2 separate regions of the Homo sapiens genome follow, and region 2 is linked to region 1. The links come from fine-mapping of genetic effects on gene expression. A gene starts in region 1. The other region holds a variant in brackets. All regions are shown on one strand. Distances are between the middles of the regions.

Evidence for each region. PIP is the estimated chance that this variant, and not a neighbour inherited with it, causes the effect. A credible set is the group of variants that fine-mapping cannot tell apart.
Region 2: its variant is the best candidate, but not a certain one, in a credible set for the expression of HAND2 in skin (TwinsUK, PIP 0.64).

The regions. Positions count from the first base shown.
Region 1 is chr4:173,527,715-173,532,099 of GRCh38, forward strand. It overlaps HAND2 (heart and neural crest derivatives expressed 2), which reads right to left and starts at 2,515. Exons shown (of 2, transcript NM_021973.3): 1 at 1,021-2,515. The coding sequence starts at 1,575. HAND2-AS1 (HAND2 antisense RNA 1) reads left to right here and starts at 2,657. Exons shown (of 5, transcript NR_136196.1): 1 at 2,657-2,825; 2 at 3,253-3,364.
Region 2 is chr4:173,726,221-173,730,605 of GRCh38, forward strand. No RefSeq gene overlaps it. Among named protein-coding and RNA genes, the nearest start is that of LINC02269, 170 kb to the right of the region's middle. The variant TTG/T (reference allele first, on the strand shown) is at 2,327.

The DNA of each region.
Region 1 (4,385 bases):
TTCATTAGCAATCCTAGATCCACATCTAGGAAAAATAGGGCGAAGGAGCCTCTGTTTCGGCCTGGGCCTCTCGGCCAGAGGCTCTCGGCCTCCAGCTCAGCAGTGCCTCTCCTCCAAGGCTTCTGAAATCTCTGGTTATTCGGGAGGTCACTCGATTATGCAGCCACCAAAGGGCTGCAGGGGCCAAAGAAGAAAAATTCGACAAATGCAATTATTTTCCGGGCCCTTCGTGGACATAGCTCTATCCTGCACCACTGCCCTGTGGGCACTTGGTAGGAATCTGAGAAAATTTTAAGCGGCTCAATTTACTTTCGTGTTATTTTTAATAACAATGACCATAGTAATGCCTTTTCCCCCTTAAAATGTACAGGCTTATTCAAATAAAATTAGAAATGCCAATGGAATATACTCATCTGGGAAATTACATTTTAACGTCATAGCCAAGGAAAAATTGGAGCTGTATTTTGAAGTCAAAAGTACTTATTTTATGTTTACCATTACGTTTTCCGGGCATAGTATGAGAACAACCACAAAACTCAGGGCTCAGTCTCTGGCAGCCTCCTTCTGGGAGTGGGGTAGGGGGTGCGATCAATAGTGAAATAATTGGAATCAAGGGCTTCTTCGAGACTTATTCTGGAAACATCTGAAAGCAAGATTGGATTGGAGGCCAAAAGAAGGGTCTAACAGAGACGGGGTGAGGCATCCAGACCAGTGCGATCGCGATCGATCGCGACCCAGAGTTTTCAAGGTCCGTCCTAAGTACTAGGGGAGCAGCGATAACCCGGAGGTAAGATCACCAGCGCAAAGCATCCCTAACCTTCTCCTCCTCCTGCTGACACCCTCCCCTCAACTCTCTGCTTATGCCGGAAGCCATCCTTACACAACCTGGTGCAAACAACCTTGAAGCGGGACGCAGCCAAAGAACACGAGATGCCATTTCTCAGCCCAATTGGAAAGAGGCCGGGAGCACCAGTTCCCTGACCCCCTCAGCCCCACCGCCTGCCGCCCCCTGGTACTGACCAGCTCCTTCTTCCTCTTCTCCTCTTTCACGTCGGTCTTCTTGATCTCTGCCTTGAAGGCCTCCGCCTCGCCATTCTGGTCGTCCTTGGCCAGCAGGTCCATGAGGTAGGCGATGTAGCTGGTGGCCAGGCGCAGGGTCTTGATTTTGGAGAGTTTGGTGTCGGCGGGTACGTTGGGGATGCACTCGCGCAGTTCGGCGAAGGCGCTGTTGATGCTCTGAGTCCTGCGCCGCTCCTTGCGGTTGGCGGTGCCTCGGCGCTTCACCGGGCGCGGCCCCCCCAGGCCCGGGGGCCCGGCGCCCGGCGGCACCCCCCCGTAATGGGAGTGGTCCAGGCCGGCGGCGCCGCTGGCATACTCGGGGCTGTAGGACAGGGCCATGCTGTAGTCGGGGGGCGACATCTCGGGGTGGCCGATGAGCCAGCCATGGAAGTAGGGGTTCTCCTCATGGCTGCAGCGGCTGGCGGCGGCGGCGGCAGCTGCGGCGGCGGCGGCGGCAAACGGGTAGCCCTCGTGGTGCACCACCGGGTGGTGGGGAAAACCACCTACCAGACTCATTTCGCCCTCCGCGCCCCTCCACGCGCCCCAGCGTGCGCGCAGCCCCGCCGCGCCCTCGGCCCGGGCCCCTGCCTCAGCGCTCGGCGTCCTCCCCCACCCCCCACCCCCCAGCCCCCGGGCGCCCGGGCCCGCCCGGCAGCCGCAGAGGGGGCTGCTGCAGCCCGGGCCCCGTCCCCCCGCCTGGCCAGCCGGGCCCGCCTCAGCAGCGCTGCGGCCGCCGGCTCCCCATGGGGCGCGGCGAGCTGGTCCTGGCACCGTGCGCCCCTGGCCGCCGCCGCCGCCGCCTCCGGTTCCCGCCTTGCTCCACGGCCCGCGCTTCGGCTCCTGCTTCCCGGGCTGCTGCGCGGAGGCAGAATCCTCTCGTGCTCATACAAAGGTGCCGGGGCTCCCGCGAGGCTGGTACGCGGAGTCTCGGGAATCCAAGCCCGGGCCGCGGTCCTGGCACCGAAGCTAACCCGGAATCCAGGGGCGAGTCTGAGCCGCGGCTGGAGGAGCCGGTCCAGCTGTGCCGGGGGGCGGCGGGGTCGACTGCTCACTGCAAAGCTACCTCCGTGCGACCCTCCCCTTCCCGCCTCTTCCCCTCCCCCCACCAGCCCGATCTGGGTTCTTGGGCGCTTATTGTTTTAATGAAATTTTTGGTTGTTGTTGTTTTGGTCCTTAAATGTGATTTTAGCTGCGAGTAACGTGTCCTCGCTCCTCTCGCGCTCTCTCGGAGGGTTTTCAGAGAGGTCTCAGTGCATCCATTTTCTCAGATCCTCTCCTTTCGGGGCAAGGATCTGGGGCCCTGAATGAGCCTTGGAGCTCGAAGACCGCGGCTCGGGCTCTCGGAGGGCTCTGCGCGGTGGCCGAGGAAGCTCCGGGGTGACGGCGGTGGTTCTCCTGGGCTGGACGACGTGAGGGGAGCAAGCGGATTTTCCCAGCAAGATCTCCATGTACAGCTACATCTTTAGGGCCGCTCGGGTTAATATATGTCGTCAGAGGCTCCTCACGCCAATCCCGGGGCGGCAGGGGCGGCGCCTCGAGCTCTCGGCAATAAAACTTTTTGATGTTCACGTTGCTAATTGCCGAGGTCCTCTTCCAGGATTGGCTACCTCCTCATAACCATAAGATAATTAAAACTTGGCGGGGGGGGGGGGCAGGGTTAAAAAAACTTTTTTTATCAGTCAGAGGATAATGCAAGTGTTTAACAGATGCTTCACTATTAAAATATTTTCCCCCCAAGTCTCAAATATTGAAGAATCTCTAACCAGGTACAGTATCACTCTGCTCTCTTTTCTGGTTGAAAAGAAAGAAAGAAAGAAAACGCAGGTATTGCTTTTCGAAGTGCTTTGTAGGTAATCGAGGTAAGAAAATATACGCAGGCAGCCTCTTACAATTTTATGCAGGGGCGCCGGGAGCCTCGTGACGGGCGGTGGGGGCCCCCACAAAGGCGCGGCTGGGAGCTGGCGCTCTTTGCCCCAGCAGGGACGAGGAGCGGCTGGAGAAGGGTGTTTCTTTGACCCGTTTACAGGCTCGAAACGCCGGTCTCAGTGGCTATTGAGTTACCCACCAAGTTACCCCGGTTAGAGCTGTTTGGGGTGGCTCACGTTATTGCGGCAAACTTTGGAGATGACGGCTGAGTCCTCCGGGCGAACATGTCAAGCCGATTGTAAATGCTGTTATTTCCACATCCTTCAGGGACACCAGTCCCTACGAAGACCTTGGGCGATTTTGAAGTGCGGGCACCTCGATTCCCCGAATCTGTAGTGTGGCTGGTATCGGTGTTCCCCTGGTTTAACTAGCCTGTTTGGTAAGTAACTGAATATTTTTTACGGCGTGTTCAGAGCTTATTTTCCAGTTTTTATGAACAAACATATAAATATATCTCTGCATTCCTGCCTCCCTCATAAAAGCGGGCATCTGTGGAAAGCAGGTTTAGTTATCGGAGGGGAACCATTAAACGCCAGTTTAAGAGGCAGGCCGGGAGGACGGCTCGTGGATGTTGAGACTGCTGGCCTTGGTGATCTTGAACGCATTATAACGGAAAATGGATCTCCACTTGTAAGTCACCGGGCCGCGGGGCACCCGGGCCGCAGCGCCCGTGTGGCATGAGCTTCTTGAGAAGGCTCACGTGCGGCGAGGGCGGGTGGTAAATGGCAGGAGCTGAAATCACCCCAGGCTTGGCCCCAAGCCGAGAGGGGAGGCTGATGTGTATATGCAGATTCCACCCGAAGGAGTTCGGTGTGGAAAACGGTGTCAACAGGAGCCCGCGGGCTGTAAATTAGAGGGAGGCGAGGGCCTGCGGCGCCAGCGCGGGACAGGGCGGCCTGGGGCTCGCCGCTGGTCAGGCCAGGTTAGCCCAAGGGAGACCAAAGACTCCACCTTGAGCATCGCCCTTTGGAGGCGGGCAGAGTCCGGCCGCAGGCCACAAAGCGATCCCCACCCGAAGGACTCCACAAGGACAGTCCTTTCCTTGCTCACCGCCGACAAAGTGGTTGGGGCAGGAAGGCGAGGTCAGTGCGAATGGAGGGCGCCCAACTTCGGTGTTGCAGTTGACTCTGTGCTCGGGCTCTGCCCTCCACTAGCCCTAGAGTCTTGGGCAGCAGGATTGAGAAATATATATATTTCAGGTTTGCCGCGGCTGGGCGGTAGGAGACAGGGACTTAAAAGCCCAGGATTAGAGTCGGTGCAGGGCCCATTCTTTTTCTAGGAAAGGGGTTAACATCCTTGAACGTCCCCAGACAAGCGTCTTAAAGCATTGAACCTAGAATAGGGATTAACTGAAACTAGGCTCGTTGGTAAGCGCCAGGGGCTTGCAGTTGAGCTCGGAA
Region 2 (4,385 bases), 200 kb after region 1:
GAAATTCTGGGTTGAAAATTGTTTTCTTTAAGAATGTTGAATATTGGCCCCACTCTCTTCTGGCTTGTAGGGTTTCTGCAGAGAGATCTGCTGTTAGTCTGATGGGCTTTCCTTTGTGGGTAACCTGATCTTTCTCTCTGGCTGCCCTTAACATTTTTCCCTTCATTTCAACCTTGGTCAGTCTGACGATTATGTGTGTTGGGGTTGCTCTTCTTGAGGAGTATCTTAGTTGTGTTGTCTGTATTTCCTGAATTTGAATGTTGGCCTGTCTTGCTAGGTTGGGGAAGTTCTCCTGGATAATATCCTGAAATGTATTTTCCAACTTGGTTCCATTCTCCCCGTCACTTTCAGGTACACCAATCAAACATAGGTTTGGTCTTTTCACATAGTCCCATATTTCTTAGAGGCTTTGTTCGTTCCTTTTCATTCTTTTTTTTCCTAATCTTGTCTTCATGCTTTATTTCATTAAGTTGATCTTCAATCTCTGATATCTTTTCTTCTGCTTGATCGATTTGTCTGTTGACACTTGTTTATGCTTCATGAAGTTCTTGTACTGTGTTTTTCAGCTCCATCAGGTCATTTATGTTCTTCTCTAAACTATTTATTCTAGTTAGCAGTTTTTGTAACATTTTTTCAAGGTTCTTAGCTTCCTTGTATTGGGTTAGAACATGCTCCTTTAGCTCGGAGAAATTTGTTATTACCCACCTTCTCAAGCCTACTTCTTTCAATTCATCAACTCATTCTCTGTCCAGTTTTGTTCCCTTGCTGGTGAGGAGTTGTGACCCTCTGGAGGAGAAGAAGCATTCTGGTTTTTGGAATTTTCAGCCTTTTTGCACTTGTTTTTCCTCATCTTCATGGATTTGTCTACCTTTGGTCTTTCATGTTGGTGACTTTCGGGTGGGGTTTTTGAGTGGTCATCCTTTTTGTTGATGTTGATACTATTGCTTCCTGTTTTTTACTTTTCCTTCTAACAGTCAGTCCCCTCTTCTGCAGGTCTGCTGGCATTTGCTGGAGGTCCACTCCAGAACCTGTTTGCCTGGGTATCACCAGCGGAGGCTGCAGAACAGCAAAGATAGCTGCCTGCTTCTTCCTCTGGAAGCTTCATCCCAGAGGGGCACCTGCCAGATGCCAGCTGGAGCTCTCCTCTATGAGGTTTCTGTCAACCCCTGCTGGGAGGTCTGTCCCCAGCAGGAGGCACAGGGGTCAGGGACCTACTTGAGGAGGCAGTCTGTCCCTTAGCAGAGCTTGAGCACTGTGCTGGGAGATCTGCTGCTGTCTTCAGAGCTGGCAGGCAGGAAAATTTAAGTATGCTGAAGCTGTGCCCACAGCTGCCCCTTCGCCAAGGTGCTCTGTCCCAGGGAGATGGGAGTTTTATCTATTAGCCCGTGACTGGGGCTGCTGCCTTTCTTTCAGAGATGCCCTATCCTGAGAGGAGGAATCTGGAGAGGCAGTCTGGCTACAGTGGCTTTGAGGCGCAGAGATGGGCTCCACTCAGTCCGAACTTCCCGGTGGCTTTTTTTACACTGTGAGGGGAAAACCGCCTACTCAAGCCTCAGTAATGGTGGATGCCCATCACCCCACCAAGCTCGAACATACCAGGTTGACTTCAGACTGCTGTGCTGGCAGCGAGAATTTCAAGCCAGTGGATCTTACCTTGTTGGGCTCCCTGGAGGTGGGATACACTGAGCAAGACAACTCGGCTCTCTGGCTTCAGCCCCCTTTCCAGGGGAGTGAATGGTTCTGTCTTGCTGGCATTCCAGGTGCCACTGGGGTACAAAAAAACAAAACAAAACAAAACAAAAAAACAAAACTGCAGCTAGGTAGGTGTCTTCCCAAATGGCCACCCAGTTTTGTGCTTAAAACCCAGGGCCCTGGTGGTGTAGGCACCCAAGGGAATCTCCTGGTCTGTAGGTTGTGAAGACTGTGGGAAAAGCATAGTACCTGGCCCAGAATGCACTGTTCCTCACGGCACAGTCCCTCATGGCTTCCCTTGGCTATGGGAGGGAGTTTCCTGACCCCTGGCACTTCTCAGGTGAGGCAACACCCCACCCTCCTTTGTCTTGCCCTCTGTTGGTTGCACCCACTGTCTAACCAGTCCCAATGAGATGAGCTAGATACCTCAGTTGGAAATGCAGAAATCACCTGCCTTCTGCATTGGTCTCGCTGGGAGCTGCAGACTGGAGCTGTTCCTATTCAGCCATCTTGCCCGGGAATTTGTCAAACTGATTCTTAAGGAACTTAACTACCTCCAAAACAACACTCTTTAAAGGAAGACAACAAGATCCAAATACAATATATTAGTGTTCTTCAAAGAAGCAGAGCTGAT[TTG/T]TGTGTGTGTGTGTGTGTAATGTGTGTTTGTGTGTATGGAGAGAGAAACAGAGAGAGACTTATTATGCCTAGAAGTGTGAAATATGCAGAACCCTTGGTCCCGTTCGAGTCCAAAGGCCGCATACTGCTATAGAACCAGAAAGAGCTTATGTCCCAGTTCAAAGGCTGTCAGGCAGGAATATTTTCTCTTACTTGGGAGAGGGTTGGGCTTTTTTTCTGTTCAGACCTTTAAGTGATTGAATGAGACCTACTCACATTATGGAGGGCAATCTGCTTTACTCAGTTTACTGATTTAAATCTTAATCTCATCCAAAAACACTCTCATAGAAACACCCAGACTAATGTTTGGCCAAATATCTGGGCACCCAGTGGCCCAGTCAAGTAGACACAAAAAAATTAGCAACCACATTTAACAATGTAACATTTATAATTTTCACCTCTAATAAAATATTACTAGACATACAAAGAAAAAGAAAAATATGACCCATAACCAGTGAAATAAGTCAATAGAAGCAGAAGCAGAAATAAAAATAATATTAGAAATAGAAGACAAAAACCTTAATATAGCTATTATAAACGTGCTTGGGCTTTAAAGTAAAACATAAATTTAATAAAGAAATGGAAACTATAAAAAAGAACCAAATGGAACTTCTGGAGTTGAAAAATACAAGATCTGAAATTAAAAATGCGATAGATAGTCTTAACAGTAGATTAAAGATGCAGAAGATGTGATAAGTGGACTTGAAGTAAGAATAATAGAAACCATAAAAAAAAAATAGTACAAAGAAAGAGAGAAAAAAAGGCTGAGAAAAAAAGCCTAGAGCTTCTATGACCCGTGGATAATACAAAATGTTCTAATATAGTGAGACTGAAGCCCAAGTAAAAGAGGAACGGGACAAATATTTAAAGAATGATGCCTGAAACTCATCCAAATTTGATGAATACTATAAATCTACAAATTCAAGAAGAATAAACACAGAGTAAACCATACCAAGGTACAACATAATCAATTGCTGAAAACAAAATTAATGAGAAAATCTTAAGTGCAAGGAGACATGGGGGAAGACATATTAAATAAAAAGGAATATGGATAAGAGTTATCACTGACTCCTTAATAGAAACAATACAAGCCATCTTTGAAATGCCAAAGGGGGAAAAAAACCCCTGTTCACATAGCATCTATATTAAGTGACAATCTCTTTCACAAATGAAGCAAAATAAAGATATTTTCTGCCTAACAAAAGCAAAAAATATTGTTACAAGGAGACCTGCATATCAGAAAGTTTAAAAAATATTCTTCATTTTGAAGGAAAATGATATCAGATGGAAACGAATCTATTCAAAGAAATGAAAAGCACTGAAAGTGGTAGATCTGTAGGCAAATATGATATTTGTTCTCATTAAAATTTTTTACATGATAATTAAAAAATTAAGAACAATATATGGCATTATAACAAATGTATCAGTGAAATGAATGAAAATGATAGCACAGTGATGGAAGGGACGAATGGAATTTATAGTGTTTAAAGTTTTCATACTACACTTAATGATATATTATTTGAAGATTGGCTGTGATTAGTTGATGCATATTTTAAACACTAGCAAAGTCGCTTTAAAAAGGAGGTATGTTGTTTAGTAGAGGAGACAAAATAGAACATTAACAAATACTTAATCAAACGAAAAAGAAGAAAAAAGGATAAAGAATGGATTAGAAGGACGGGCATGGTGGCTCACGCCTGTAATCCCAGCACTTTGGGAGGCCAAGGTGGGCGGATCACAAGGTCAGGAGTTCGAAACCAGCCTGACCAACATAGTGAAACCCCATCTCTACTAAAAATACAAAAAAATTAGCCAGGTGTGGTGGCGCATGCCTGTAATCCCAGCTACTCAGGAGGCTGAGGCAGGATAATCACTTGAACCTGGGAGACAGAGGTTGCTGTGAGCCAAGATCATGCCATTGCACTCCAGCCTGGGCAATAAGAGTGAAACTCCATCCCCACCCCCCCTAAAAAAAGAATGGATTAGAAAACAACAAATAGCAAGGTGATAGATTCAAA